Linked DNA regions of Homo sapiens: region 2 is linked to region 1. The links come from fine-mapping of genetic effects on gene expression. A gene starts in region 1. The other region holds a variant in brackets. All regions are shown on one strand. Distances are between the middles of the regions. Region 1 holds the start of BRI3BP (BRI3 binding protein). Region 2 overlaps LOC105370053 (a long non-coding RNA gene).

Evidence for each region. PIP is the estimated chance that this variant, and not a neighbour inherited with it, causes the effect.
Region 2: its variant is fine-mapped to the expression of BRI3BP in whole blood (INTERVAL, PIP above 0.99).

The regions. Positions count from the first base shown.
Region 1 is chr12:124,984,228-125,000,361 of GRCh38, reverse strand. It overlaps BRI3BP (BRI3 binding protein), which reads right to left and starts at 6,717. Exons shown (of 3, transcript NM_080626.6): 1 at 6,359-6,717. The coding sequence starts at 6,571. It overlaps DHX37 (DEAH-box helicase 37), which reads left to right and starts at 11,231. Exons shown (of 27, transcript NM_032656.4): 1 at 11,231-11,445; 2 at 14,097-14,266. The coding sequence starts at 11,340. RefSeq lists enhancers at 4,518-4,657, 5,838-5,927, 7,647-8,147, 12,768-13,311 and silencers at 6,018-6,077, 6,088-6,337, 6,348-6,397, 6,498-6,547, 6,568-6,887 and 1 more.
Region 2 is chr12:125,157,725-125,173,858 of GRCh38, reverse strand. LOC105370053 (a long non-coding RNA gene) reads right to left here. Exons shown (of 3, transcript XR_945492.3): 3 at 12,840-13,346. Among named protein-coding and RNA genes, the nearest start is that of TMEM132B, 21 kb to the left of the region's middle. RefSeq lists an enhancer at 13,765-14,265. The variant T/C (reference allele first, on the strand shown) is at 7,467.

The DNA of each region.
Region 1 (16,134 bases):
AGCCTGGGTGGCAGAGCGAGACTCCCTCTCAAAAAAAAAAAAAAAAAAAAAAATCATATGAAACTTTATCTTAACTGTGGTAATTTTTCACAAGTGTGTATGTCAAAAGGTGTCAACCTGTACACTTTAAATACGCACAGTCTATTGAGGTGTAGTGCAATTACACCTCAAAAAAGCTGTTAAAATGTTGGTAGGGGAAAAAGGACTGGAAAGTGTCAAAGTTATTTTGCTCAAAATACTTTCTTGCAAACAGCAAAAAATGCAAACCTCTTTACAAAAAAAAAAAAAAAGCAAAAACAAAAGAACCCAACAGCTCAATAGAACGGCAAAAAAAAAAAAAAAAAAGAAAAACCAAAAGGCAGTTCCCAGAACATATCGATGGATTCTGAATAAATGAAAAGACCATCTGTCTCATACATAATAAAGCCAAAAAGTTTAATGAGGCTGGGTCGGGTGTCTCACACCTGTAATCCCAGCACTTTGGGAGGCCGAGGCGGGCGGATCACGAGGTCAGGAAATCGAGACCATCCTGGCGAACACAGTGAAACCCCGTCTCTACTAAAAACACACAAAAAAATTAGCTGGGCATGGTGGCAGGCGCCTGTAGTCCCAGCCACTTGGGAGGCTGAAGCAGAAGAATGGCATGAACCCAGGAGGTGGAGCTTGCAGTGAGCCGAAATTGCGCCACTGCACTCCAGCCTGGGCGACAGAGGGAGACTCCGTCTCAAGAAAAATAAATAAATAAATAAATAAAAATAAAAAATAAAAAACTTAGCAGGGCATGGCGGTGCAGACCTGTAATCCCAGCTACTTGAGAGGCTGATGCAGGAGGATCATTTGAGCCCGGGAGGTAGAGACTGCAGTGAGCCAAGATTGAGCTACTGCACTCCAGCCTGGGCGACAGAGGGAGACTCTGTTTCAGGGAAAAATAAAATAAAAATACAAAACAGTGCGCATAGTGCAAAATAAACAAAAACCAACAATAGGGAGCAGATCTATAGATCCATATATTTATACATGTTCAGAATATCTGGCTGCTTCGGGGAAGGGGGTGGTAGACGGGTCGGTAGTGGGAAGTGGAGTTAGTTTCTTAACCTTCAGAACTACATGAAATTGTATTCCATGCAACTACGACCAAGGAGCAAGGGAAAAAAGTACTAGTTTCTCGACCTGGCATTCAGGATGTTTCCACCACATCAGTCCAGCTATATTCTGCCTGAGAGGAATCATTTTCTCCACATACAGTAGGTGCTTGAAATTTTTCATTTGTTTGTTTTTTTTGGAGACAAAGAGTTTTGTGCTGTCCCTGAGGCTGGAGTACAGTGGTGTGATCACAGCTCACTGTAGTCTCAACCTCCCAGGATCAAGCGATCCTCCCTATGCAACCTCCCAAGTAGCTGGGACCACAGGTGTGCGCCACCATGCCTAGCCAAAGGTTTTGGTTTTTCGTAGAGATGGGGTCTCACTATGTTGCCCAGGCTGGTCTCAAACTCCTGGGCTCAAGCAATCCTCCCACCTAGGCCTCCCAAAGTGGTGGGATTACAGATGTGAGCCACTGCACCAGGCCAATTTTTTTAAAAAACTGTAGTCATATACACATAAAGTTGGCCATTTTAACCATTTTAAAGTGTACAATTCAGTGGCATGAGCACGTTCACAATATCATGCAACCATTATTATCTAGTTCCACAATCTGTCATCACCCCAAAAGGAAACCCTAGATCAATTAAGCAGTAATTCCCCCATTGCTCCCTCCCCCAGCCCCTGGCAACCACCCATCTGCTTTCTGTCTCTACGGATCTTCCTATTCCAGATATTTCATATGCTGTAAATGGAATCATATAATGTGTGCCCTTTCGTGACTGGCTTCTCTCATTTATTCAAGGTTCGTCCAAGTTGTAGCATATAGCAATACTTCATTCCTTTTTATGGCTGAATCATATTTCATTATACAGACACATCACATTTTATCCCTTCATCAGCTGATAAGACATTTGGGACATTTCCACTTTTTAGCTATTGTAAAAAGTGTTGCTATGAACACATGTGTATAAGTTGCTTAATAATTTTTTTTGAGACGGAGTCTCTGTTCCCCCGGCTTGAGTGCAGTGGGGCGACTCAACCTCACCGCAACGTCAGCCTCCCGGGCTCAATCTATTCTCCTGCCTCAGCCTCCCAAGTAGCTGGGATTACAGTCGTGCACCACCACGCCCAGCTAATTTTTTTTTTTTTTTTTTGAGACGGAGTTTCACTCGTTGCCCAGGCTGGCGCGCGCAACGGTGCAATCTTGGCTCACTGCAACGGCCGCCTCCCGGGTTCAAGCGATTCTCCTGCCTCAGGCTCCCAAGTAGCTGGGATTACAGGCATGCATCACCACGCCTGGCTAATTTTTTGTATTTGGTAGAGACAGGGTTTCACCATGTTGGTCAGGCTGGTCTTGAACTCCTGACCTCAGGTGATCCATCCACCTTGGCCTCCCAAAGTGCTAGGATTACAGGCGTGAGCCACCACACCTGGCCTAATTTTTGTATTTTTAGTAGAGACAGGGTTTCGCCATGTTGACCAGGCTGGTCTCGAGCTCCTGACTTCAGATGAGCTGCCCACCTTGGCCTCCCTAAGTGCTGGGATTACAGGTGTGAGCCACCATGCCAGGGCATCACTTAATAATTTTTAAAGGAATTAACAAGTCTATTACCTCCTACCAGACAAATTCCCTTCATATAGAAATATTCTACCATTTACTAAATGCTTATTCAGTCCCTGGCATTGTGCAGCCCAACCAATCTCCTTTAATTCCCCAATTTATCTCCTCTGAACAAATGGGACACAGATAAGTAAAGCAACTGGGTGGTGCACGGTGGTTCACGTCTGTAAATCCGGCACTTTGGGAGGCCGAGGCAGGCAGATCACCTGAAGTCATGAGATCGAGACCAGCCTGGCCAACACAGTGAAACCCTGTCTCTACTAAAAATACAAAAATTAGCTGGTCGTGGTGGCATCTGCCTGTAACCCCAGCTACTAGGGAGGCTGAAGCAGGAGAATTTCGTGAATCCGGGAGGCGGAGGTTGCAGTAAGCCGAGAGCTCGCCATTGCACTCCAGCCTGGGAGAAGAAGCGAGACTGCATCTCAAAAAAAAAAAAAAAAAAAGAGAAGTAAAGCAAAAAAAAAAGAGAAGTAAAGCAACTGGCTCAGGGTCACAGAGCGAGTGAGAAACAGCTAGGATTCAAACTCATGTCTGTTCCCATGCTCCAAACAGGATGGTCATAGGTGTATTTCAGACAAGTCCTAGATTAGAATATGGGAGGCCGGGCACGGTGGCTCAAGCCTCTAATCATAGCACTTTGGGAGGCTGAGGAGGGCGGATTACGAGGTCAGGAGTTCGAAACCAGCCTGGCCAACATGGTGAAACCCCATCTCTACTAAAAATACAAAAATTAGCCAGGCATGGTGGCACACACGCCTGTAATCCCAGCTACTCAGGGGGCTGAGGCAGGAGAATTGTTTGAACCTGGGCGGCAGAGGTTGCCATGAGCCAAGACTGAACCACTGCATTCCAGCCTGGGCGACAAAGCAATACTCCATCTCGGAAAAAAAAAAAAAAAAAGACTATGGGGTGTTTTTTTAAATACCATTAAACTTCACAAAGCAGGTTTGGCTCTAATTCGTAAACCCAGGCATGCTGAAAACTACAGTTGCTGGCAGACCCAGTTTTCCTTTATTTAAAATTCACAAAACAGGCTGGGCACGGTGGCTTACGCCTGTAATCCCAGCACTTTTGGAAGGCTGAGGTCGGCAGATCACTTGAGGTCAGGAGTTTGAGACCAGCCTGGCCAACATGATGAAACCTCATCTCTACCAAAAACATAAAAAATTAGCCGGATGTGGTGGTGCTCACTTGTAATCCCGGCTACTCACTTGTAATCCCGGCTACTCAGGAGGCTGAGGCAGGAGAATTGCTTGCCCAGGAGGCAGACGTTGCCGTGAGCCAAGATCGTGCCAACGCACTCCAGCCTGGGTGACAGAGTAAGAGTCTGTCTCAAAAAATAAATTAATTAATTAAATTTAAAAAAAAACCCATAAAATTAACAAAACAATATCCCCAAGCCTGGCCAGTGTGGGCTACACTCAGCAGGAAATAAAATAAGTCAGGCCAGGTGCAATGGCTCACACCTGTAATCCCAGCACTTTGGAAGGCCGAGGCGGGAGGATCACTTGAGGTCAGGAGTTTGAGACCAGACTGGTCAACATGGTGAAACCTCTTTTCTACTAAAAATACAAAACTTAGCCAGGCATGCTGGTGGACACCTGTAATCCCAACTACTTGGGAGGGTGAGTGGGGAAGATCGCTTGAACCTGGGAGGTGGAGGTTGTAGTGAGACGAGATCACTCCACTGCACTCCAGCCTGAGCAACAGAGCCAGACCTCCGTCTCAAAAAAACAAAAAGGAAAGAAGTCAGGTCAGCCTCTGGATGCTGTACTGACTCGGGGAACAGGGAAGGGGTCATGAAGCAGGAAAACAGGCGAGAGATACTAATGTGGGCTCCATGTCCACTCTGCCTAGGTTCACATCCTGGCTCTGCCACTCATCTGACCTGAAACCAGCCACTTCACTGCTCTGTGTCTCAGTTTCCTCATCTGTCAAATGGGAACAGTAACAGTACCTACTGCACAGGGTCATTCTAAGGATTACATAAGATTATTCTATCTACAAAAGCACTTAGTAATCATTAGTATCTCTATTAAAGGCACAAACCCCGGTTTAGCCCAGGAAGAGCTCTGACCCCCAGATTCGGAGATGCTCTGCCAGAATACAGATTGTCTTATTTAAGTAAAAGTCTTAAATAACCACTCGTATTTCATGTTTGTTGGCCTTAGATTGTCACATGGAACCACCGTCAGTTGAGACATGGGGATCCTGTGGTCACCCTGCGTGAAAAAGACAGGCTTATTTTTGCTCTAAAACAAATGATTTCTGCCTTCAAATAGCTCCGAAACGGCATCAAGAGGAAGTAAGTGAGACTCCCTGCACTCACACCCCTGATCCTTTCCCGCGCCAGACTCCAGGGCAACCTTTTCACATTCAGGCGTTCAGCCCTGCTTCCTTGCCCCTCTTTGGCCACCTACAAAGCGTTCTCTCCCCTACATGTATGAAGACACAGACCCACCTGTGCAAGAGGTGCCCCTGCCCACAGGAGAGGGAGGTCAAAACTTACTGTTTTCCTAACAAATTAACCTTTCATGTTATCCAGTAAGAACATGCAGTCAATCTGATTTCGGCCTTCATATTCCCTTCTATTCCCCACTCCCTCTCAATGAGCAGAAAACTTTAACTTTTTAGCCATGATTCTGGGCCAGGAAGGTACCAACTAGTCATAATTACAACCTCGCAATGAAGGGGAATGATTACTATCCCCATTTAACAAATAAAGAAACAAGCTCAAAGAAGTGAAGTCACTTCCCCAAAGTCATCCAACTGGTAGAGCTCCAACTTGAACCCAAACTTCTCTGACTCCAAAACCCCAGGAAGGCTGGCGGCAAGCAAGAGCCCCCTCCTCCCCAGGGAACAGCAAAGGAACCGCAATACCACACACAACTGTCCCCAGTAACTTCCTCCTTCTCAAGAGCTAGTCGGCGGACTTCGGCCCGGAATGGCACCCCTATCGCACCTAGCTCCAGAGAGCAGGAATTGGGGAAAACCCCCTGCGATCCTCCTGGGACTCAACACCCTTCCCAGGAGGCTGCAGGATCCGGGACCTCCCCAAACTAAACAAAAGGCTCCACGCGAAAGGCCCCGCACACAGTAGGTGCTCGGTTTCCCAAAGCCACCGAGCAAATCGCATTGCTCCCTTCTTTTCCTGTAAAGTAAAAACAACTCCAAGTATCTTCAAAGCAGGAGGAGGAGTGGGGCAGAAGGTCCCAGGGGAAGTGGGTCGGGATGCGAGGCTAGGACAAACCCGGGGTAGCTGGGGAGGGCGCAGCCGCGTGGGGACCGAGAGCGCCAGTGTGCTGCCTGGCTCACAGTAGGAGCCATTCAAACGCGGTGAATGAATGAATGAGACGCGCGGCAGGCGTCAGCGCAGCCGGGAGAGACTCTGGCTGCGCCGACCGCGGAGGCAAGGTCCAAGGAGAAGCGCGGCGCAGAGGAGAGGGCGCCCCGAGGCCCGGCCGCCCAGACCCGCACTGGTCAGGCCCGGCGGGGGCCGCAGGCGGCAGGCCCCGAGGCGCAGGCCGGACCCCCTCTTCCCGCGCGCTGGCCGGGCGGGCAGCCCCGGAGGCCGCGCTCCTCCCAGGTCGGCCCCGGTAGCCAGGTGCGTGGCGACCGGGGCAAGGTGACCGCGGGCGCGGGCCCGGCGCCCACCTTCTGAGCGGCGCGCACGTTGTCCTCGCCGAACAGGCTGCTGACGCTCTGGGAGAAGGTGTTGACCGTGCGGCGGTAGCTGTTCTTCTCCGCGCCGCCGCGGCCCCGCGCCCCCTGCGCGCCCGGGGCCAGCAGCCCGAGCAGCAGCAGCAGCAGCAGCAGCAGCAGGAGCCCGGCCCGGGCCAGGGGCCCGCCTGAGGCGCGCGCGCCCATGCTCGGCCGGCGGGGCGCGGGGTCGCGATGCGGGGTGAGGGCCGTGCGCTGGGCCGCAGCGGGCTCCGGCTAGGGCAAGGTTGGCGCGCTCGGGGGCCGCGCGCCGCGCCTTTACCCACAGCCGCCGCCGCCGCTGCTGCGCCACCTGCCCCGCCCCGCGCGCAAAGGCGCACGGCCCAGCCCACGCCGCGCCCCGCCCCCGGCGCGGGACCAACGCGACCCGGCCCCGGGGCCCCGCGCCCGCCTCCCGGAAGCCTGCCCCGACCCGGTGCGGCTTCTCATCATTTAAAAAAAAATTCTCTTTTTTAACTTATCCGTGGAAAAGCAACCCGTGCCTGTAAAACTTGCAACAGCTTCAACCAGGAAAGTGACTGCAACTGATTGAAAAACATGAAATAGACATATATGTAATCTCCCTGAATGTATTATAATGGTACCCCAAAATTCGCCCTCGTGGGCATCAGCTCATTCATCCTGAAAATTTTAAATAACAAGAAAGCATCAGGCATCCTCCTGCCCTTCCTGAATGAACTGTATTTCAGAGCCCCAAAATAGTTGGGGAGGGACTTTCTTTTACAAAGTCCAGCTAATACATGAGGATGAATGAGAGAATCCGAAAATTATTTGGCACCCCTCAATAGAATGATGGATTCACGCGATGATCATCAGAAATGGGTACAACCAAGAGGGGAGGGTTTGGCGGGGAACTTGAAAATGGAGGGGCTAAGCCGCGAAGTCCCGGTCCCGCCAATCGATCTTAGTGCCAGGAAGTACCAGCGCCACCTGCGATGGATTCTTGCCAAGACAAGTTGAGCATGAACCTGATGGGGCCTCTAGATCAAACCTACAGTTTACAGGAAATATGGCAGATAAGGAAAACTTAGAAGCAGCAGAAGCAACCAACCAACTCCAGCATGTGGGGCATTCTACCAAACAAACGACCCAGTTTGTTCAATAAATAATTGGTATAAAAGGTGAGCGAAGAGGAGGATAATTGGTTTTAAAGACTTAAGAGCCATAATAACCCATGCAATGCAAGGACCCTGTTTGCATCCTAAATCAAACAAATCAAGTCTAACCAACATTTTTTTTAGACAACCAAGAAAATAAAACTCAATTTTTGCCAATCCAAAGAATACAAAATGCTCTTATTTTTGAATTTACATTTTCTGGATTCCTAGTAAGATTTTCATAGATTTATTGGCCATTTGAATTACTTCTCTGTGAATTACCTATTCATATCCTTTGCACATTTTTTCCTGTATTGTTTATCTTTTTAAAAACTTTTTTGTAGGTCGGGTGCGGTGGTTAACGCCTGTGATTCCAGCACTTTGGGAGGCTGAGGCGGGTGACCTGAGGTCGGGAGTTCGAGACCAGCTTGACCAACATGGAGAAATCCCTCCGTCTCTACTAAAAATACAAAATGAGGCCAGGCGCCGTGGCTCACGCCTGTAATCCCAGCACTTTGGGAGGCCGAGGCGGGCGGATCACAAGGTCAGCAATTTGGGAGGCCGAGGCGGGCGGATCACGAGGTCAGGAGATCGAGACCATCCTGGCTAACACAGTGAAACCCCGTCTCTACTAAAAATACAATAGCCGGGCGTGGCGGCGGGCGCCGTAGTCCCAGCTACTCAGAGCCTGAGGCAGAAGAATGGCGTGAACCCGGGAGGCGGAAGTTGCAGTGAGCCGAGATCGTGCCACTGCACTCCAGCCTGGGCGACAGAGCGAGACTCCGTCTCAAAAAAAAAAAAAAAAAAAAAAAAAAATCCAAAATGAGCCAGTTATGGTGGTGCCTGCTTGTGATCCCAGCTACTCGGGAGGCTGAGGCAGGACAACCGCCTAAACCTGGGAGGCGGAGGTTGCAGTGAGCCGAGACTAAGCCACTGCACTCCAGCCTGGGCAACAAGAGTGAAACTCCGTCCCAAAAACAAAACAAAACAAAACAAAAACCTTTTTTTACGCCAGGTGTAGTGGCACAAGCTTGTTTTGGGAGGCCAAGGCAGGAGGATTGCTTGAACACAGGAGTTCGAGGCCAGCCTGGCCAACATAGTGAAACCTATCTCTATAAAAAATGATAATAATAATAATAATAATAAACTTTTTAATTAAGGTATAACATACAGAAAAATACACAATCATATAAATTTTTATGAATTTTCACAAACTGAATACCCAAGGTAACCAGCACCCAAATCAAGAAACGAAACATTACCAGTTCCCCCACGAAGCCTCCCTTTGTCCCCTCCCATTCACTATGTTCCTCTTAAAATTTAGGGGATTCATTTGCCTGTGTTTGAAGTTTATGTAAATGAACCACACAGTACTCTGGGGGTTGGCTTCTTTTGTTCAACTTTTTTTTTTATTTATTTTTTATTTTTTGAGACGGAGTCTTGCTCTGTTGCCCAGGCTGGAGTGCAGTGGCATGATCTCGGCTCACTGCAACCTCCGCCTCCGGGGTTCAAGCGATTCTCCTGCCTCAGCCTTCCGTGTAGCTGGGACTATAGGCACGCGCCACCACACCCGGCTAATGTTTGTATTTTTAGTGGAGACAGGTTTCGCCATGTTGGCCAGGCTGGTCTCAAACTCCTGACCTCAGGTGATCCGCCTGCCTTGGCCTCCCAAAGTGCTGGAATTACAGGCGTGAGCCACCACGCCCAGCTTTTGTTCAACTTTATATTTGTGAGATCCATCCATGCTGTTATGTATCTGCCTTCTTCTTGCTGTCTAGAATGGTCTATACCTTCTGGAAGGTAATTCACTGATATATTATATTTTAGAAGGAAATATAGGCAAGTGTACTACTACCTACTTAACATTTTTTAAACGTTTCTTAAACTTTTAATTTATTTAAATAAACATATTTAAAGAAGAAACTTTAGATCACTATCATCCTGAGCAACAAAATCCATAAAAACACAGATTTGAGCCTGGGTGCAGTGGCTCAGGCCCGTAATCTCATCATTTTGAGAGGCCAAGGTGGGCCGATCACTTGATGTCAGGAGTTTGAGACCATCCTGGCCAACATGGTGAGACCCCATCTCTACTAAAAATACAAAAATTAGATGGGCATCTTGGTGGGTGCCTGTAATCCCAGCTACTTGGAAGGCTGAGACAGGAGAATCGCTTGAACCCGAGAGGTGGAGGTTGCAGTGAGCCGAGACTGCTCCACTACACTCCAGCCTGGGCGTCAGAGGGAGAGTTCTGTCTCAAAAAAACAAAAACAAGCAAACAAACAAAAAACCCCATAGATTTGATACGCTAATTATGATTTTTTTAAACGTCATTCATTAAGGCCTTCACAGTGGCTTATGCCTGTAATTCCGGCACTTTGGGAGGCCGAGACAAACGGATCCCTTGAGCCCAGAATTTTGAGACCAGTCTAAGCAACATAGGGAGACACCATCTCTACAAAAAAATAGAAAAATTAGCCCGTCGTGGTGGTGTGTGCCTGTAGTCATAACTACTCAGGAGGCTGAGGTGGGAGGACAGGTCAAGGCTGCAGCGAGTGGTGATTGCACCACTGCACTCTGGCCTGGCCCACAGGGCGAGATCTCATCTCTTAAAAAAAAAAAAAAAAAAGTCGGGCGCGGTGGCTCATGCCTGTAATCCCAGCACTTTGGGAGGCCCAGGCAGGCAGATCACGAGGTCAGGAGTTTGAGACCAGCCTGGCCAACATGGTGAAACTCCGTCTCTACTAAAATACAAAAACTAGCTGGGGGTGGTGGCGGGCACCTGTAGTCCCAGCTACTCGGAAGGCTGAGGCAGGAGAATCGTTTAAACCCGGGAGGCAGAGGTTGCAGTGAGCCGAGATTGCTCCACTACACTCCAGCCTGGGCAACAAAGCCAGACCTTGTCTCAATAATAATAATAATGCATTGTTTCCCAGTGTGTTACAATGTGATGCGGTAATGGGAATTTAAAGTTATGTAATAGACAACTTTATTTTTTTTTTTTTGAGACAGAGTCTAGCTCTGTTGCCCAGGCTGAAGTGCAGTGGTGCAGTCTCGGCTCACTGCAACGTCCACCTCCCGGGTTCAATCAATTCTCTGCCTCAGCCTCCCAAGTAGCTGGGATTACAGACGCCTGCCACCAGGCCTAGCTAAATTTTTTTTGTATTTTTGGTAGAGACGGGGGTTTCACCATCTTGGCCAGGCTGGTCTTGAAATCCTGACCTCGTGATCCGCCCGCCTCGGCCTCCAAAAGTGCTGGGATTACAGGCGTGAGCCACCGCGCCCGTAGAGGCCTCCTTTTAGATCTTCCATCTATCCCTGTGATGGAAATATTTGGTGCCTTTTTAAAAGTACACGACTAATACGTTTCTTGTAGGAATATCAGAAAATACAGATGCGCAAACCAGGGTTGGGGGGAAGAAGTTTGGAGTACTGGGGGCGGGGTATATTTTAAAAGGTGGCAAAACACTTCCACTCCCAAGAAGCCAAATTAGTATCAGTAGATATAATTCATATTTAAACCCAGACTACCCCAAGCGAGAACAGCCCAGGACTTAAACTCCGGCCTCCGCTGGGACCTCAGGCCCCGCCTACTTCTCTAAATAGTCCCGCCCCCTGCCCGGCCCGGCTCCGCCTCTCCTCTTCGCTGGGTTTCTCTTGCAACCCCGCCCCTCAGCGGCAAAGTCAGTTACAGTTCTCGCGATAACACAACCCGGAAGTCTCACGGCCGGAGTTGGTGGTCTGGGAACCCACGTGGGCTGGGTTTCGGATTGCTCTGCTGGTCCGGCCGCTGGAGCGCCCACCCTGGCCTAGTCGCCATGGGGAAGCTGCGCCGGCGCTACAACATCAAGGGGCGCCAGCAGGCGGGCCCCGGACCCTCGAAGGGCCCCCCCGAGCCGCCCCCCGTGCAGCTGGAACTGGAGGGTAAGACATCCCCGGACCGGGGCTGGATTTCGGAGATTTCCCAGGGCGGCCTGTGCCCTGCCTTCAGGACTCTCGGGTGGGGATCCCAGAGGGGTGGGATGGATCATCTGGAATGGGGGAATGGGTCCCCCCATTCCAGATGATCCAAAGGAGAGGGGCTTAGTGACAGCCTAGTTTTAACAGTGTATATGGAATACCCGGGATTTCTCTCGCCCTCAAATAGTAACATGGAGAATTTGGCAAAAAAAACAGGAGTAGTTCCATCCCTTCCCATGACTTCGATTATAATCTCTTTATAATCTCCAGCGACCCCCAAATGTGTATTTTCAGCCCAGTCTTGTCTGCTCAGCTCCAGGCTGGCTGACATTTCTCTCAGACCCCTTTTTAGGAGTAGCCCTTATTACATGCCAGGCACTATTCTAGGCACTGGAGACATAGCAGAAAGGGAGATTTTTAGAAAATCCCTGAGTTTACCTGCTGTATAGGAGGAGACAGGCAAAGAATAAACATATAGAAATTTATGCGGCTATAGTGAGCAGATAAAACAGAAGAGGCCATTGGGTGGGTTGCAGCATCCCATAGAGTTGCTGGAGAAGACATCACTCTGTTAGAGTCAAGATCTGAAGGAGACCTGAGTGGCTGCCTGGAGATGAGAGAAAAAACAGGGGGCCAGGGCAGGTCGGGCCTGGACTGCAGTCTTGGCGAGGACTGGGGCTTTTTCTCTACGGGAGAGGGCAGCCATGGGAGCATTTAGAGCAGAGGAGGCGTGGTGGTGGGCACCTGTAGTCCCAGCTACTTGGGAGGCTGAGGCAGGAGAATGGCTTGAACCCAGGATACGGAGGTTGCAGTGAGCCAAGATCGCACCACTGTACTCTAGCCTGGGTGAGAGAGCGAGACTCCATCTCAAAAAAAAAAAAAAAAAAAAAAAAGTTCCACAGACAGGCTGGGAGTTGAGGCAGATCCCCTAACATCTCTGTGCCTTCGTTTTCACATCTGCAGAATGGGACCAGTAGCACACGTTGAGCAGCCTTAATCCAAAATACTCCAAAATTCAAAAGTTTTTGAGTGTCAACATGACACTTAAGGAAATGCTCATTGGAGCATTCCAGATTTCAAATTTTTAGATTAGGGATGCTCAACCAGTGAATAGAATACAGATGTTCCTAAAGCTAAAACAGGTCTGGTTCCTAGCATTTCTGGAAAGGGATATTTAACCTGTAGTAGCCGTCTTACCTCCTATCAGAGTTTTGGAGATGGTAATTTGGGAAAATATGTTGCTTTGAAAAGTAAAGAAAGGTTACAGAGGTGGGGTGTGTCCCAGGACAGGTGACAACCGTTATGATGGCAGTGACAATTCAGGATGGCACCTCAAAGACAGCCGTAGACACTGGGCTGACACTTGGAACTGGACCACCTGAGCAGAGGGGCTGAGGTCTCTCAGACCCAGAGATTTGGGGAAAGTTGTTTCTCACATCAGAACAGGACATTTCCATGTATCCCTGCCTTTCTCAGGGGCCAGAGGAATCTCATAAGAACATGACTCAGATTACCTTCTTTTATTTATTTATTTATTTGAGATGGAGCCTTGCTCTGTCGCCTAGGCTGGAGTGCAGTGGCGTGATCTCTGCTCACTGCAACCTCCACCTCCCGGGTTCAAGCAGTTCTCGTGCCTCAGCCTCCTGTGTAGCTGGGATTATAGGTGCATGCCATCACACCTGGCTAGTTTTTGTATTTTTTGTAGAGACGGGATTTTGCCATGTTGGCCAGGCTGGTCCCCAACTCCTGGCCTCAGGTGATTTTCCCAAAGTGCTGGGATTGCAGGCGTGCGCCACCGCGCCCGGCCCCACCGTACACTCTTAGGAGAACATCAGGCTGGGTGCAGTGGCTCACGCCTGTAATCCCAACACTTTGGGAGGCTGAGGCGGGTGGCTCACTTGGGGGTCAGGAGTTCGAGACCGCCTGGCTAAGATGGTAAAACCCCGTCTCTACTAAAAATACAAAAATTAGCTGGGGCGTGGTGGTACATGCCTGTAATCCCAGCTACTTGGGAGGCTGAGGCGGGAGAATTGCTGGAACCTGGGAGGCGGAGGTTGAAGTGAGCTGAGATTGCGCCACTGCACTCTAGTCTGGGGGACAAAGTGAGACACCGTCTCAAAAAAACAAAAAGAGAAAATCATAGTATTTTTTGGGGGGTTTTCTTTTTTTTGAGATGGAGTCTCACCCTGTCGCCCAGGCTGGAGTGCAGTGGCAAGATCTCGGCTCACTGCAACCTCCACCTCCCAGTTTCAAGAGATTCTCCTGTCTCAGCCTCCCAAATAGCTGGGATTGCAGGCACCCACCACCACACCTGGCTAATTTTTGTATTTTTAGTAGAGACAGGGTTTCGCCACATAGGCCAGGCTGGTCTCGAACTCCTGACCTCAAGTGAGCCACCTGCCTCAGCCTCCCAAAGTGCTGGGATTACAGGCATGAGCCCCTGCGCCAAGCCTTGAGAACATCATAGTATTGTTATGAAAATAGATTTGAGCTCACAGATCCCCCTGTTCCTGTGTGCAGACTCAGGAGGCCCCCATGCAAGTCAGGGGGCTTGTGGGAGGCGGGACCAGAGCTACCTCAAGGAGAATGGGGACTTAATAACTGTGCTCTCTCAGACAAGGACACGTTGAAGGGAGTTGATGCAAGCAACGCGCTCGTTCTACCGGGGAAGAAGAAAAAGAAGACCAAAGCCCCTCCCCTGTCGAAGAAGGAGAAGAAGCCTCTGACCAAGAAGGAGAAGAAAGTGCTGCAGAAAATCTTAGAACAGAAGGAGAAAAAGAGCCAGGTACACCCCACTCGGGCAGGGTCTGCAAGTGGCTCTCCAGCATAGAGAGAGATGGGGGGTCTCTCTCCTCCTGAGGGTGTCTCTGTGGTGCAACTAATAGAACTTTCTGGAATGAGGAAAATTCCAGTGCATGGTCCAGTGCGGTAGCCACTAACCACATATTGCTGTTGAGCACTTGAAATGCAGCTACTATGGCAGAGGAACTGAACTGAACTGTTCCGGAGAATGTCAAACTTTTTTCCTTGTTTTTTCTTCTTTTTTTTTTTTTAATTTAAATTTAATTTTTTTTTCTTTTTTGTTTTGTTCCCCCACCCCCGACATCTTTTCTGGCTCTACCAAACCTTAAAAAAATTTTTTTTTTTTGAGATGGAGTCTTGCTCTGTTGCCCAGGCTGGAGTGCAGTGAAATGATCTTGGGTTCTCCTGGTATCAAGTGATTCTCCTGCCTCAGCCTCCTGTGTAGCTGGGATTACAGGCGCGTGCCACCACGTCAGGCTATTTTTTTTTTTTTTTTTTGTATTTTTAGTAGAGGCGGGGTTTCATCATGTTAGCCAGGATGATCTTGATATCCTGACCTCGTGATCCGCCCGCCTCGGCCTCCCAAAGTGCTGGGATTACAGGCGTGAACCACCATGCCCAGCCAACCTTAATTTTTTCATAGAGGAAAAAAGTTTGTCATGGGAAATTCAAACATTTGCAAGGGAAATTCAAACATTTGCAAGAGTAAAGAGAACAGTATGATGAACTCCCATGTGCCCATCGCCAGCTCCAACATTGATCAGCCCCTGGTCAATCTTGGATTATCTCCACTGCTGGTCACTTTCCCACCTCTGGGTCATTTTGAAGCAAATCCCACATACAGTGAATCTGTACTAGTTTCCTGGGGATGTCATACAAATGACCACAAACTGAGGGGCTTAGGACAATAGAAATTTGTTCCTTCCCAGCTTAGGAGGCCAGAAGTCCGAGATCAAGGTATTGGCAGGGCGGTGCTCCTCACTGGGCTCAGGGGAGGGTCATTCCTGGCCTCTTCCTGCTCCTGGCGGCTCCAGGCGTTCCCTTGGCTTGTGGCTGCGTCACTCCAATCTCTGCCTCCCTCTTCCCTCGGCCTTTCCTCCGTGTGTCTCTTCGAAGGGCGCTTCTCATTGGATTTAGGTCGCGCTCAGATACTCAGGATCATCTCATCTTGAGATCCTTCACGTAATTACGTAATTACATCTACAAAACCTTTTTCCAAATAGGGTCACGTTCGCAAGTTCTGGGATACGAACACGTCTTTGAGGGAGGCTGCCATTTAACCCACTATACATAGCATTATATCCATAAATATTTCAATTTGTATCTCTATAAGTAGAGACTTTTAAAAATGACCAGAATACCATTAGCACACCTAATCTTTTATTTTAATATCAAACATCTAGCAAGTGGTTAAATTTCCTGTTGTTTCATGGATACTCCTCACCCTTTTCTTGTTTTTTTTTCCCATTGTAGTTTATTTGTTGTTTGTCTTACAGTTTCCTACCTTCTGGATTTTTAAATTTTTATTTTATTTTATTATTTTTTGAGATGGAGTTTTGCTCTTGTTGCCCAGGCTGGAGTGCAATGGCATGATCTCGGCGCACCGCAACCTCCACCTCCCGGGTTCAAGTGATTCTCCTGCCTCAGCCTCCCGAGTAGCTGGGATTACAGGCATGCACCACCACGTCCGGCTAACTTTGTTATTTTTAATAGAGACAGGGTTTCTCCATGTTGGTCAGGCTGGTCTTGAACTCCCAACCTGAAGTGACCCACCTGCCTCGGCCTCCCCGAGTGCAGGGATTATAGGCGTGAGCCACTGCGCCCAGCCTTAAAATTTTATTTTAAACATGC
Region 2 (16,134 bases), 170 kb before region 1:
CACTGCACTCCGTCCTCTAAGGCATGGGTCAGCAAAGTTTTCCGTAAAGGGTGAGACAATAGGAAATAGTTTAGGCTTTGCAAACCATACAACATCTCTGTTGTAGATTCTTCTCTTTTTTTCCATTTAAACGTACAAAAACCATTCTTAGCTCAAGGGCCTTTACAGAAACTGGGGATGGGCTGGACTTGGCCCATGAACTGGAATCTGCTGGCCCCTGCCTAAGAAACAGCTCTGCTCATCCCAAAATAACACCTCCAAGCAAATCTGTGAGAGCTCCCTGGACGTTATGGAGCAGCAAGCACAGCATGGAGAACAGAGAAAACCAGGGGGTCTGCCATCAGTCACGCCCTGGGGTATGGGTCTGCCATCGGTCACGCCCTGGGGTATGGGTCTGCCATCAGTCACGCCCTGGGGTATGGGTCTGCCATCAGTCACCCTCTGGGGTATGGGTCTGCCATCAGTCACCCTCTGGGGTATGGGTCTGCCGTCAGTCACACCCTGGGGCGTGGGTCTGCCACCCAGTCACCCACCTGGGGCGTGGGTCTGCCATCAGTCACCCCCAAGGGCATGAGTCTACCATCTGGTCACCCCCAGGGGTGTGGGTCTGCCATCAGTCACCCCCAGGGACGTGGGTCTGCCATCCAGTCACCACCAGGGGCATCTCAGATGTACCTGTTCCTTCTTCAGAACCAAGCAAGGGGCCTCTCAGAACACAACTAAAAATAACTGATTGGTGCAGCCCCTATCCTGTGCAAGACACTGCCCGTGAATGATTTCACCAAATCAAGATATGCTGGATCTATCCCCATTCTGCAAATGAGGAAGGTGAGGCCCAGACAGGTCAAGTAACTGGACTAAGATCACACAGCTAACAAGTGTCAGAACCAAGATTTGAACGCCAAGCAGTCTTTCTACTCCCATCCTTGTTTTCTCCTATCTTTGTGATTTACAGGACAAACTCACCTTCCATCCCTAGATGTGGATGCTCTGAACCTGACACTGGCCACGGGCTGACCCTGAGGTCAGGGCTGCTTGGCTACTGCCACCACCGAGTGCCCACCAGCCCCTGGGGCCCCCTTGGACTGGGCCAGGAGCCCCCTCTCCCTATTGAAGCAAGGCCTAATTTCCAGAGCTCTTCGGGAGATCTCATGCAGCTAAAAGGAGAGGCTGTAAACACTAAATATAACTGCTTGAAGCAGCGCTGACAGCTCCTTGCAGAACAGGGCCCTGATTATATAACGAGGCTGCCTGGGGAAGGGAGACTTGTGCCTGCTCAGGTTTTTCCAAAAGAAAAAAGAAAAATCAGATAAAGAAAGTTAAAACTGTTCTCCTTAAACCTCATTCATTCATTCCCTGGACAGAAACTTATTACGCCCTGACTGTGAGCCAGGCACTATCACAGGCACTGGGGATGTGACAGCGGATCTCACACACAAAATTCCCTGTGCTTGTGAAGCCGCCAGCCTAGTGCAGGGAGACAGACCATAACCAAATAAATAAGTAAACTACGGAGCAGGGTGGGTGAAAACAACTGCAAAGTCAAACAGGCAAAGAGTATTTTTAGAGTGGAAGGGGATGATTTTAAGCAGGGAAGGGAGTCTGCAAAGATGACATTTGAGCAAATGCAGAGAGTGAGAGAAGGGGCCACTCAGGGGTCTACAGGGAGAGGCTCTCGGGCAGTGGGAGCAGAAAGTGCAAAAGCCCTAAGGTGGGACCATGCACCCATTACAGAGGCACAACTGAAGACCCATGGCCAGAAGAAGAGCGCTCCCAGCAACCGTAAGACAAAAGTTGTAGCCACCAACAAGCAGGTGTGGTTGGGCTGGCTGGGGTATGGAAATGGCTCTCATGGGGAAGAAGAATGAGCACTGATTCATTCCTACTTTCTTCCGTAGGCAGAGTTCTAGGGCAGCCCCTAAGATTCCTGCCCTGTCTAATCCCCAGGGGGCTGTGAATATGATGAATTTTACACCTGTAATTAGGTTGTCATAGGGTGCAGTTGACCCTGAGAAAGGGAAATTAGCCTGAGTGACCCCTTAAAAGAGACTGGACTCTTTCTGAAGTCAGCAATTTGAGGTGTGAGAGATTCAAATTGAGGGAGATTCTCTGCTGCTGGCTTTGAAGATGGGGGAGGCCAAGGAGGAGACATGTGGGGGCCTGTAGGAGCTAAAAGCAGCCCTGGCAGACAGCCAGCAAGGAAATGGGGACCCCAGTATGACCACCACAGAAACTCAACCCCCACATGACACAACTACACGAGCTTAGCAGAGGGTCCCAAGCTCCAGATGAGGACACAGCCCAGCCAACCCCTTAATTACAGCCTCGTGAGACCCTGAGCAGAACACCCTGCCAATGCCATGCCTGGACTCCCTATCTACAGAACTGGGAACTCATAAGTGGGTTTTGTTTTCAGCTGCTAAGTTTGGAGTAACTTGTTACATAGCAACAGAAAACAAATACATATTCATTAAATATCTTTGAGCACCTACTATATGCCAGGCCGTGTTAGGTGCTGGAGACATAGCCATGAGCAAGACAGACAAGACTCCTTCTACATGGAGCTTACATTCAAATTAGGAAAATGGACAATGGGCAAGAAATACACAATGGACACAATAATTCACAAGATAATGTGAGAGGGAGGTAATGCCAGGACAATGGCCTAACAGGCTGTTTCTTTTTCCTTTTAGGGTCTTGCTCTGTCACCCAGGCTGGAGTGCAGTGGCGTGATCATAGCTCCCTGCAGCCTTGAACTCCAGGCTCACGTGATCCTTCCACCTCAAACTCCCAAGTAGCTGGGACTATAGGTGTATGTCACCACTCCCCCCTAATTTTTTTTATTTTTTGCAGAGACAGGGTTTTGCCATCTTGCCCGGGCTGGTCTGGAACTCCTGGGTTCAAGTGATCTGCCCACCTCAGCCTCCCAAAGTGCTGGGATTACAGGTATGAGCCACCATGCCTGGCCAATGGGTTAAGTTTCAATGGCCCAAGCCAACAAACCAGCCCCAGCAGACAGAATCTTTAACCCAATCGCCTCTCCAAAGCCCTGTGTCATTTGCCCCACCCATCTCCAACCTCATCTCCTGTTGTTCTGTCCTCTCTCTTTGTGCTGGAGCCTCCTGGATATCCTTCTCTTCCCCAAACATACTATGCTGTTCCCACATCAGGGCCTTTGCACTCGCTGTTCCCTCTGCCCAGAACACCCTTCCCCCAGATCGCTGCATGGCTAGCTTCCTCTCACCTTTAAGGCTTCTCCTGAAATACTGCCTCCTCTGAGACCTTGTCTGACCACCCCATTTAAAGAAGACCTCCCACCCATGAAGCTAGTGATCTACCATGTTTTACTGTCTTTATAGCATGTGTCATTCTCCTAAGTTATTTGATTTATTAATTCACTTGATGGCTTATTTCCTCCCCTGGAATACAAGCTCTACTGCTGCAGAAACTGTCTTTTCATCACTATTTCCCTGAGACTAGAACAGTTCCTGGCCCAGCACAGACACTCAGGAAATATCTGTTGACTGAATGACTGGAAAATTCCTTTGATCAGCCAGTGGTTGTTTTTATTTCTTCCATGGGGAATAAAAAAAGCACTGAAAAAAGGAATAATTCATAGAAAAATGAAAATCCTAAGCAATAGTGAGACATCCATTTGCATAATGACAAGCATCTGATTTTTAATATAATTCCACCTCCGAAGTGAAATGTTCGCTATTCAGATGCAGCCAGGCCCCATGAAAGGGCTCAGATACACAGGAGCAGCAGTTACAAGGGTGGGAGTCAAAATCCTCCAGCGGCTGCTTCCCCGCCATCCCAACAGTCTCAGCTGCTGCCATCTAGAACTTGCCAGCTATTCCCGACACTGTCAGCTGTCTAATCCAACACCCGTTCCCAACTTCTTTCTTTCTCCCTTGCCTCCTCGCTCTAGAAGGGGTGGGAAAGCTAAATACCCCCTGCCGCAGACTCTCTTGCAGTTCTACTTCTGTCCCGTGAGATGAAATAAAACAGTCTGGAGATCATCTGGGGATCTCTGCTGCTGGCTCTGAAGATGGAGGAGCCCAATGAGAAGACACGTAGGGGGCCTCTAGGAGCTAAAAGCAGCCCTGGCAGACAGCCAGCAAGGCTACCTAAAAAAAGAACAGCGGTGCCTGACCAGGACCTATCCCTTTTTCCTGCTTAAATGTAGCCTTGATGGCTGGAGTCACAGCAATCATTTTGTGACCATGAGGAGAAGGGCAAGAGAATCACAGAGATTTTTGGTCCTTATGTCACTAAGCAGCTTTATCATTACCCATAAATAACCACCTCTAGAATTCTTGGTATATGAGAAAAATAAATCCTAACTACTCCACAGTGGTGGGGTTTCCTGGTGTTTGCAAGCAAAAACATTTCTTGCTAATATGCTGACTGTATGGGTACAAACAGCTTCGCTTAAGTGAATGAAAACTGTCTTTTGCCCAAAGCAATTGCATACCCATTATCCAACCTCATCATGGCAATATCCCCTGAGAGTTTGCATGGGCAGACTTTATATCCCCCACGTTAGGCAAAAAATCTGAGATTCAGAGAGATTAAGTGACCTGCCCCAGCATCACACCATGCAATGAAACTTGAAACTCAGAACTAAAACCTGGGCCAGGCACAGGCATTCACGCCTGTTATCCCGGCACTTTGGGAGGCCAAGGTGGGAGGAAAACTTGAGCCCAGGAATTCAAGACCAGTCTGGACAATATAGTGAGACCCCATCTTTACAAAAAATATATAAAAATTAGCTGGGCATGATGGTGCATGCTTGTGGTCCCAGCTACCTATGAGGCTGAGGCAGAAGGATCACTTGAGCCCAAGAGGTTAAGGCTGCTGTGAGCTATATCATGCCACTGCACCCCAGCCTGGGTGGCAGAGCAAGATTTCGTCTCAATAAATAAATAAATACTAAAACCTGGACTTCCAAATTTCCAATGCAACTTACAGAGAGACAAGAACCCATAATATAAAACAAGATCCCTGGGGCAGCTCTAATAAACCTAAAAAGAAAAACTTTCGTTGTAAATTTCTGCTTTAGGCTAAGAGAAAACTGTCATAACCCACTTAGAAACCCAGGACCCAAGTATTCCAGTCTCGAAGTAGTGTTGTGGTCAATGAACACTGTCCCTCAGCCAAAAGGGAACTCCAACGTAACTTACGGTCCTTATTTGCATTTTTTTTTTTTTTTGAGATGGGGTCTTGCTCTGTCGCCCAGGCTAGAGTGCAGTGGTGCGATCTTGACTCACTGCAACCTCCGCCTCCCGGGTTCACGCCATTCTCCTGCCTTAGCCTCCCGAGTAGCTGGGACCAAAGGCGCCTGCCACCATGCCCGGCTAATTTTTTGTATTTTTAGTAGAGACGGGGTTTCACTGTGTTAGCCAGGATGGTCTCGATCTCCTGACCTCGTGATCCGCCCGCCTCGGCCTCCCAAAGTGCTGGGATTACAGGCCTGAGCCACCGCGCCCGGCCCCTTATTTGCATTTCTTGAATGCTATAAAGGCAACACATGGTCCACAGAAATATTTCTTAAAATTCTCCTCCCCTCCCTGATCCATGTCCTTCACACTCCATACCTCCTCTAATTTCTCCAAACTCTCCCCAAACCTCTCCTCCCAGCCTCTTGGGTCCTTCTTCCTGTTCCACTTGTCAATTTATTGTCACTCGGCTCCAAACCCATCCTTCTTTGCCATGTTTGGTGATCCTGGAGCTGACCCCTGGAAACATTTCTCCTTTGCCAGCTGGTAGAATGTTCGGCTTTGTCCGTAGAAGGCATGGGTTACACTGTGCAGCTATACAGCAGGAGAGCCAATCCACTCTGGGTTCCTGTCCTCCTCTCCTACTGCAAGCAGCTCTTCTACCAGCAGCTCTCAGGCCAGCTTCTGTGACCCTCTCAGGCCATGCTCTCCTCACTTGGTGGCCATTTCCACAGTAGCCTTGAGGGACCCTCAGCTACACTGTCCCCACCCAGTGGCCACTTCTGCAGGAGCTCCAGCCATCCCCTCAGGCCATCCTCGCCCCACCCAGCAAGCAGCTTCAACCAACCACCTTTGACTCTGCCCTTGAACCATGCTCTCCCCACCTGGTGGGCATTTCTTAGAGAACAGCTGTGGCCACTCACATGCTCTGGCAATAGCAGATGGTGTATATGGACTAGCTGCAGGCTTCGTCGTCTGACAGTGTCCTCATCCAGCAAACTGCATGTTCTTGTAGTAGCTACATTCTCTTCGGAGAGGGCTGGTTCTTGGTCTCAGGGACTAGAATAGTTCTATATTCTTCACTTTCCATTTCCCCTCAGTCTAGAGGGAGTAATAACTTTTTTTTTTTTTTGAGACAGAGTCTCCCTCTGTTGCCCAGGCTAGAGCGCAGTGGTACAATCTCGGCTCACCGAAACCTCTGCCTCCCAGGTTCAAGCGATTCTCCTGCCTCAACCCCCCGAGTAGCTGGGACTACAGGCATGTGCCACCATACTCAGCTAGTTTTCATATTTTTAGTAGAGACGGGGTTTCACCATGTTGGCCAGGCTGGTCTCGAACTCCTGACCTTGTGATCCACCCGCCTCGGCCTCCCAAAGTGTTGGGATTGCAGGTGTGAGCCACCACACCTGGCAGTAGTAACTTTTTTATACCTAATATTTCTAGACCCCTTAGAGTCCTCTTTGACTCCATTAGTAAGTTAAGCACATCTTACTAGTTAATAATTCTTTTTTTGTTGTCTTGTCTTTTGTGTGTGTGTGTGTGTGTGTGTGTATGTGTGTGTGACAGTCTCTCTTTGTCACACAGGCTGGAGTGCAATGGTGCTATCTCGGCTCGCTGCAATCTCCGCCTCCCAGGTTCAAGCAATTCTCCTGCCTCAGCCTCCCCAGTAGCTGGGACTACAGACAGGTGCCACTACGCCCAGCTAATTTTTGTATTTTTAGTAGAGACGAGGTTTTGCCATGCTGGCCAGGCTGGTCTCAAACTCCTGACCTCAGGTGATTCACCTGCCTCGGCCTCCCAAAGTGCTGGGATTACAGGTGTGAGCCACCACACCTAGCCCTGTCGTCTTTTTTTTTTTTTTTTTTTTGAGACAGGGTCTTGCTCTGTCACCCAGGCTGGAGTGCAGTGGTGCTATCATAACTAACTGCATCCTCAGTCTCCTAGGCTCAAGCGATTCTCCCACCTCAGATTCCCAAGTATCTGAGACTACAGGCACGCATCACCATGCCCAACTGTTTTTTTATTTTTTGTAGAGACCCAAGCTGGTCTCAAACTCCTGGCTTCAAGTGATCCTCCCGCCTTGGCCTCCCAAAGTGCTGGGATTACATGTGTGAGCCACCATGCCCAGCAATAATTCTATATATTGGACTGTCCCAGTTCAAATTACCAATGTAGAATCAGTCAGGGTCTCCTGATTGGACCCTGGCTGATACAGAACTAGTTAAGAAAGTGGTTCTAGATACA[T/C]ACAGACCTCCAGGAGTGGGAGTTGGAGACTCGTCATGCCTTTGGAGTTGAGTGCCATGCTGGGATTTTGACCATGTGAAATGGGACACCAGTGACCCATAGCATGCAGTGCCATCACAGCGAATCAGCCACACCATCACCTGTGGTTGATTCTGACAAAGTGCTGACTGAAGCACATGCCTTGGGAAGGTAGGTGGCTGAGGCACTTGACATGATGCCCGTGACGATGCCCTCAAGGGCTGCAGTGTGGGATGGATGCTTCTGTGTGCACTGGAGCATCTACAGGAAAATAAAATAGAATCTCAGGTCCCTTAACTCATATCAAAGCACAGTCCTAGGGCCAAAGAGCTTCCCCGATGCCCTCAGTGAAAATTCTTATTTATTGTAGCCTGGCTTATTTACATTAGCCAGGGCTAGTGCTACTGAAAATAAAAAACACAATTGAATTGTGTGGGTTATGGAATTACACTAGGTGGATTCACAGCCTCACCACACTTCTCATGTGAAAGGTAGGACATTAAGGCCAGGCGCAGTGGCTCAGGCCTGTAAACCCAGCACTTTGGGAGACCAAGGCAGGTGGATCACCTGAGGTCAGGAGTTTGAGACCAGCCTGGCCAACATGGCGAAACCCCATCTCTACTAAAAATACAAAATTTAGCCAGGTGTGGTGGTGGGTGCCTGTAATCCCAGCTACTTGGGAGGCTGAGGCAGGAGAATCGCTTGAACCTGGGAGGCAGAGGTTGCAATGAGCCGAGATCATGCCATTGCACTCTAATCTAGGCCATAGAGCAAGACTCCATCTCAAAAAAAAAAAAAAAAGGTAGGACATTAAAAGGGATGCTGAAGCTTAGAATGGGGACATCTGGTGGGACTCAGATGAAACTGAGAATCTTGAACCCACAAGTCACTCTGAGCCTCTGTTGCCAAAGGAAGGAGCTTGCTCTGTTGTGTCTAAGGAGACTAGCTGTCCTTTTCTTGAAAACTGTATGACAATCTCACGTGAGGAGATGCCCATTCTCCTTCAGACCCACCACAACTACTACCTGTTGGCACCAGACTCATAAGTAGAATCTTAGATTTTTAGTACCCACTATGGCCTCAAATGAGATAGCTTTTACACCAAGAGAACTGCACGATTTTGCCAATATATATTGGCAGAAACCTAAGGAGTATGTGAGGGTGTCAGACCAAGGCAGGCAGAAGAACAGGAGCAGACTGAACTCACTGACCGAGGTGCACTAAGATTTTGGATATCATGGGTTAGTTTCCTTAGCTGGAGGTGGCTCTCAAAGCTTACTTGGTTGGTGGCTGGAACTAGGACTCCATGGTGGCCTAAGTTTAGTGAGCAGAGATGCCAGAGCTACCCTGGCATGCTATGGAGGAGGGAGTCCAAAGGCTTAGGGAGATTGGAGTGTTGAAAGGATTTACCATGGCAACCTGCACACCCACCCACCAACTACATCCCCCAGGAGACCCCAGAAAATGCTTTCTCTATGAAGGAGCTGAGAAATACATTCATGGGGGGAACACCTGCATCCTTAGAAGGTCTGTGGCTTTCTCCTTTATAGGCTAGGTATGATGGATCGGGGGTGTGCCCACCATTGATATGAGCTCCCAAGAGCAGAAGCCAAGAGGCAGTGCCCAACCTCCAGACGCAGTGCGAGCATACCCGCCATAAAGGACCGCACGACATGCCTGTGGTCAGCAAGCCCTGGCCTGTAGGAGGTTTGGCAAAGACTAACTGTCCCAAGATCCCTGCGACTGAAACAGATGAGAAGCCCGCCAGAGTATTGCTTGGGGACTCATTTCACAACAAAGGGAGTGGAGCAATGGGTTCAGGCCCATAGAATTAACCTCAAGGAGAAGGAAAAGAGTCAGAGGCACAGACGACAGGAGAGGCAAGAAACCAGCAGCCCCAGAGAAAGCAGCAAAGAGACAGCAGGTACTGTTGACTGTCCAGTTCCCAGGAGGCCAAGCTGTGTGTCCTGCCCTGGGGCCCCGTGTGAGACCCTGATAACCTCATGAGGCTGGGTGGTATCATGTGGGCTTTGTATTCTTTCCCCCTGTCTAGCAGATAATAGATCTGTGATTACTGGCTCAGGGCAGGGATGTGACTTTCACAAAAGCAGATACAAAAGCCTTTAAGTTTCATCCTTCTGTTTCTCTTTCTTTTTCTTTTTTTTTTTTTTTTGAAATAGAGTTTTGCTGTGTTGCCCAGGCTGGAGTGCAGTGGTGCGATCTCAGCTCACTGCAACCTCCACCTCCCTGGTTCAAGCAATTCTCCTGCCTCAGCCTCCTGGGTAGCTGGGATTACAGGCATGTACCACCACGCCCAGTTAATTTTTGTATTTTAGTAGAGACAGGTTTTCACCATGTTGGCCAGGCTGGTCTCGAACTCCTGACCTCAAATGATCCACCCGCCTCGGCACCCCAAAGTGCTGGGATTACAGGTGTGAGCCACCACGCTCAGCTTCCTTTTTTCTTTTTTCTTTTCTTTTTTTTTTTTTTGAGATGGAGTCTCACTCTGTTGCCCAGGCTGGAGTGAAGTGGCACGATCTCAGCTCACTGCAACCTCCGCCTCCCAGGTTCACGCCATTCTCCTGCCTCAGCCTCCCGAGTAGCTGGGACTACAGGCACCCGCCACCATGCGCGGCTTTTTTTATATTTTTAGTAGAGACGGGGTTTGACCATGTTAGCCAGGATGGTCTCGATCTCCTGACCTCATGATCTGCCCGCCTCGGCCCTGCAAAGTGCTGGGATTACAGGCGTGAGCCACCGCACCCAGCCTTCTTCTTTTTGTTTTTCAAAGACCCTAGCTCTTAGGTTCTGGAATCATAAAATGAAATGTCCATGGGAATCAGGCTAACTGCCGTATGTGAGTGAAATGGGGCCGGTGCAGGGCAATAGGGAGTGGACTAGACTGCAGTAAACTGGAGAGTGAACGCTCTGCTTCAAGACGTTCCAATTTAATCTTTTAAATACAACACTAGGGAACAGGTATAGGACTCCAGATTGACTGGGATTTTTTGAAATCACGGAGGAATCAGGGCTCAAAATAGAAATAAATCTGAGTGGTAGAAAAAGGAACGGGAATTGCTGCGGTAGACACCTGTCTTGTGTGTCCCCCTCCGTACGTTTGGAGAATCCCCCACTGTCTGAGTCTTCATGAGACACAGCAGCTGCCTCGCACAATAAATGCCAAATAATTTTAAAATAATAATGGTAGGCCGGGCACGGTAGCTCACGCCTGTAATCCCAGCACTTTGGGAGCCCAAGGCGGGCGGATCACGAGGTCAAGAGATCGAGACCATCCTAGCCAACATGGCGAAACCCTGTCTCTACTAAAAATACAAAAATTAGCTGGGCGTGGTGGCACCGCCTATAGTCCCAGCTACTCCAGAGGCTGAGGCAGGAGAATCGCTTGAACCCAGGAGGCGGAGGTTGCAGTGAGCCGAGAGCATGCCACTGCACTCCAGCCTGGCGACAGAGCGAGACTCCATCTCAAAATAATAATAATAATAATAATAATAATGGTAATAGCTAAAATTTAAAATGCTTACTCATCACCTCTTCTACACGCTTCACATATATTCTGTTATTTAGTTCACATAGCCCCCTCCCCCCACAGAGGTAGGCATGACTACACTATCCCCGTTTTGTAGATGAGCAAGCCGAGGCATGCATGGCGTCCAGGCTCACACAGATATGTGGCAGAGCCTGGATTCAAACCCAGTCTGGCTCCAGCATCCACGCACTTAATGCCTTGCCACCCCTCCAATGAGGGTATTAGCTTGTGACAGAGCTCGGCCAACCAGACTTGGAATCTGGAGCAATTGATCTGAAGAAGCAGAGACAGGGAGAAGCTATTCCGGTGTCAGCAACAATGTCGAATATCCAGGGACAGCAGGGCGGCGGTGATGATCAGCTCTGATGTTCTCTGGCTCTGTCGCCCATTGCCCGGCAGCAGTGGTAGCGACGGCCTCATCAGGCGAATTCCGTGGCATGCTTCCCTTTGTCTGCACGTCTTCTTTGGAGTCTATTTTTGCAGTTTCTCAACAACTCTGCGAGCTCTCCAGGTGTTGTTTCAATCAATTCCTTTTCCACTTGAGTCAGCTGGAGTCCGCCTTTGTTGCTCACACCCAGGTATCCCAACTGATGGGTCCCATTTGATGCACACCTGTGTCTGTGAACCCAGATCTGTGGCTGTGGCACTTACAATAAGCTCCCTTGTGACTCGAGCTTCTGTGGGAGGGATTCTGGTCTTTGCAGCTCTCCAGCCCTGGATTCGAATAACCCTGACTTTCCAAACTCTGAAGCCACACCAGGAGGGGAACAAGGCTGCAGGTCTACCCAGCCCTAGTACAATCACATCTGTTCAGGTGACAGTGGCCAGGACTGCTGCAGATAGTGCCATTATGGCCAGGTATTGAGCTGACCCAGATGAGGGTTTTCTTTTTTTTATCACATTTCACCATTATTAAGAATTAGCTCTGTGTCATTAGCACACCACGCTATCAACTCAAATCCATCCTACCATCTGGAAGAGGCTCACACGAACAGCATGGAGCCCAGATGGATGCTGTTAGGAGAGCTGTGAGCAGAGATCAACAGAGAGGGAGGGAGGGAGAGACAGAGAAAGACAGAGCAGACACAGAGAGAAATAGAGACAGACAGAAATAGAGAGACAGAGAGAGAGAAATAGAAAAACAAAGAGAAACAGGGAAAGAAAGGGAGAGACATAGAAAGAGGGGAAGGGAGAAAAAGACAAAGAGATAGTGAGAAATAGAGACAGCAATAGAAAAACAGAGAGAGACTTATAGAAAAGGGAAATCAGGAGGAGAATGGCGTGAACCCAGGAGGCGGAGCTTGCAGTGAGCCGAGATCATGCCACTGCACTCCAACCTGGGCGACAGAGCAAGACTCTGTCTCAAAAAAAAAAAAAAAAAAGAAAAGAAAAAGAAAAGGGAAATCAAAGAGGAGAGAGAGATAGACAGAGAGAGACAGAGAAGAGTGAGAAAGAGAAACAGAGGAAAGGGGGAGAGAGAGACAAAAAGACAACGAAAGAGATTGAGAGTGAGCAAGAGAGAGTTGTAAGGAGAGAAACTGAGTAGCAAGGACTGTAAGAGAGACAGACAGTGTCGAGGACACCCCGTGACAAGGAGAGATGGGATGTGTCAGGGCACCCTGGGACAAAGTTCCTGGGACAGATAAAGCCACGGCTGTGCTTCCCTCTCTCCCAGCCACCATGCCCAGCCTTGCAAAGGAAGGCGGGGCCCTCCTATTAAGGTGTCAAAGGTGAACAAGAATGAGGAACAACGCAAATGTCCATTAATAAGGGAGGGGCATAAATTACACAAGATTCATACAATGGAATACTATACAGAAACTGAATTTTAAAATATTGTTTTTAAAAAACCAAAAAAACAAAAGTTTAAAGGAAGAACTCTCCCTTGGGAGATGTGTTAGTCTATTCAGGACGCCACAACAAAATGCCTTAGTGGGTCGTTTATAAGCAATAGAAATTTATCGCTCACAGTTCTGGAGGCTGGGCAGTCCAAGGTCAATGTGCCAGCAGATTCCATGAGGGCCCACCCTCTGCATCACATGTGGCCCCTTCTTGCATCATCTTCGCTTGTTGGAAGGGGTGAACAAGCTCCCTTGGGCCTCCTTTATGAGGGCACTAATCCCAATCATGACAGTGGGGCCCTCATGACCTCGTCAGCTCCCAAAGGCCCCACCTCTTACTATCCCCAAGGTAGGGATTAGGTTTCCACATATGAATCTTCAGACCATAGCAGGAGACAACAGTCCTAATTATGCACAATTTGCTTCAACAGCTTCCCCTGCTCCTTCCTCAGCTTGGCATTTCTGGCGGGTGACCTAAGACAACAGAAGGGTGTCACTAAATCACATTTGGGGCTGTCACCATGGTTTCCAGAGGAGCCTCTGTGAAGCACATGTTTCCGCCTCCCTCATTGGAAGCTGGCCTTGAATCGGGGGCCTTTGGAGGAAGGCAGAAGGTTCTAGTGCAAGGAGGTGAACCCCTTTCCCTCTCACCTCCCCCCATCCCCATCCCTACCCACCCCCCAACACACACACACACACGGCCATGGCTGGGACAGTTAGCAAGTCCTTCCTCCAGCCTGGTCAGACCCAGAGCAGGAAGAGCGCTGTGACAGAGTCCCCTCCCAGAGCCATGCCTCAGCAGGCTATTCCCAGGCTGCTCACAAAGGCCCCATGAAGAACCAGGGCAGGAATCCATTTGCCATGTGCCCCCATTTTCTAGACACGGACACTGAGTCCCAAAAGGTGATGTGACAAGCTGGCTAAGAGCCAGGCCTTCTGCATTCACAGCCTGCCAAGGGGGCCAAGGCGGAGCCACAGTTTCTGCCTGCACAGCAGCCGTTCCCTTCCCTGCTGAGAGGAGGAGGCAGCTCTCCTTTGGTGAACTACAAAGGGATGTTGTTGAAAAGGGATGCTCCCGACCATGAGTGGTCACATGACCCAAGCCTAGCCAATCAGATTCACAGGGAGGGTTTGGGACAAGCTGGGTACCCTAATTTCCACCAATGAGAGTCAGGCCTGGGAGTTTTGCTGGAACCCTTGGTTCTGAGAAGGCCAGCTTCTTGAAAAATGCCCCTGGAGTGTTCTTGGGTTGCTGAAAAGCAGGCCCTGAGAGGAGGCCAGGAGGACAAGGGATATTGGGGGTGATTCCTGTGAAAGATAAAAGGTGGAGGAAGCAGAACTGGGAAGAAAAGCCTTCAGCCCCTGACATGAATCTGACGGCAGCTATCACAGCGAGGTCCGGTAAATTTATATTTATATTTATATTTATGTTTATATTTATAATATTATGAGATATAATACTCATCATCTAAAACATTTTGAGTACCATACTTAAACGTTTTCGTTTTTCCAGACTTGACCTTTGTACATCAAAGGAGGCTTCTTTACACCCCGCACAGCTTGGAAGGAGTCAGTGAGCAGAACTAGGCCCAGCCGCTGCCTTTGGTTTGTCTTCCTCTGAAGGAAAAATACGCCAGCAAAGACAACGTTCTATAACCCCGTTTGAGTGTCTCATTACAATTACATAATGATAATTGCCAGCTTTGTGTTCCATTTGGCAACTTGTTGAAGTAATTGAACAAAGTATAACTAATGAACACTTATAATGAAGTTCATAATTAGGTCCTTGAAACACTTGATATAAAAAAAATTTTCAGATTCTTTTTTTAAAAAAGCTGTACTCAAGTGAGGTGAAGTGAGGCAGACCCAGGAACTGGAGAAAGCTATGAATGGTTCCTCTGGTTTGAAAGGAAGAAAGCCCTGCAAATCATTACCCAGGTAACAGCACTGGACTCCTAGAGCCGATACACTAACTTGAAGGAGATGGTGGATGTGAGTGGCTAACGCGACGCTTGGCAGGCAGTAGGTGAACAAGAAATACTTGTTCCTTCCCTCCTGTTGGGCAGGAAGTTCACTGAGGGTAGACAGTGCTATCCATTACTGTCTATATTCTGTGGGGCCTTGTCTGGGAGACTGACACCCGGAGGTTCTTAGAAAGTGTAGCTAAAAAGAGAATATTGAACCTGCTGCTTCCTGAAGACCTTCTTCCCTGCCACTCAAGATGAACAATAATAGAGGAACCACAGGTCCCACACTCAGATCAGCAAGAGTAGAGCAGACTCTGCAGCTGGCAACCCAACAGCCATTCCCACAATCGAGGTAAAAAATTCAATACCTAAATAGTAACTTCACAGTGGCGAGGCCTGGAAGCCCCACCTTACCCAAGCAACCAAAGTTAACATCCCCAATAATGGGACTAATGAGCATTAGTCCCATTATTGGGACTCTGATGTGTGGCCTCTGATATGACCTACCAAGAAGGCCTCAGCACCACCTCCACACAGTCCTGCCAAAAGTTCATAACTGAATCCAAACATCAGGAGCCATCAGACCACCCAATGGGAAGAGCATGCTGCAAAGTCACTGGCCTGTCCTCTCGAAAACATCAAAGTCATGGAAGGCAAAGAAAGTCCCAGGAAGTTCTTCTGATTCACGGAGAATAAGGAGATGTTTCAATAGAGTGCACTGTGTGATCTGGGCCTTTATTCTGCTATAAAGGACCTTTTTTTTGTTTTCTTTTTTTGAGACGGAGTCTCTCTCTGTTGCCCAGGCTGCAGTGCAGGGCCGCCGTCTCGCCTCACTGCAAGCTCCACCTCCTGGGTTCACGCCATTCTCCTGCCTCAGCCTCCCGAGTAGCTGGGACTACAGGCGCCCGCCACCACGCCTGCTAATTTTTTGTATTTTTAGTAAAGACAGGGTTTCACCATGTTAGCCAGGATGGTCTCGATCTCCTGACCTCGTGATCCGCCCGCCTCGGCCTCCCAAAGTGCTGGGATTACAGGCGTGAGCCACCGTGCCCGGCCAAAGGACATTATTAAGACAATGGGCAGGATCTGAAAAAGGTTAGTAGATTAGATAATAGAAGTTTCCATGTTAATTTCCTGATGATTGTGCTATGGCTATGTAAGAGAATATCCTCATTTTTAGGAATTCACAATGGAGTATTTAGGGACAAAGGGACATTGTGTCTGCAGTTGACTCAAACCATTCAGAAAAAAAAACACATACGTGTGTATGTATGCACATGTGTGTATGTAGGGAG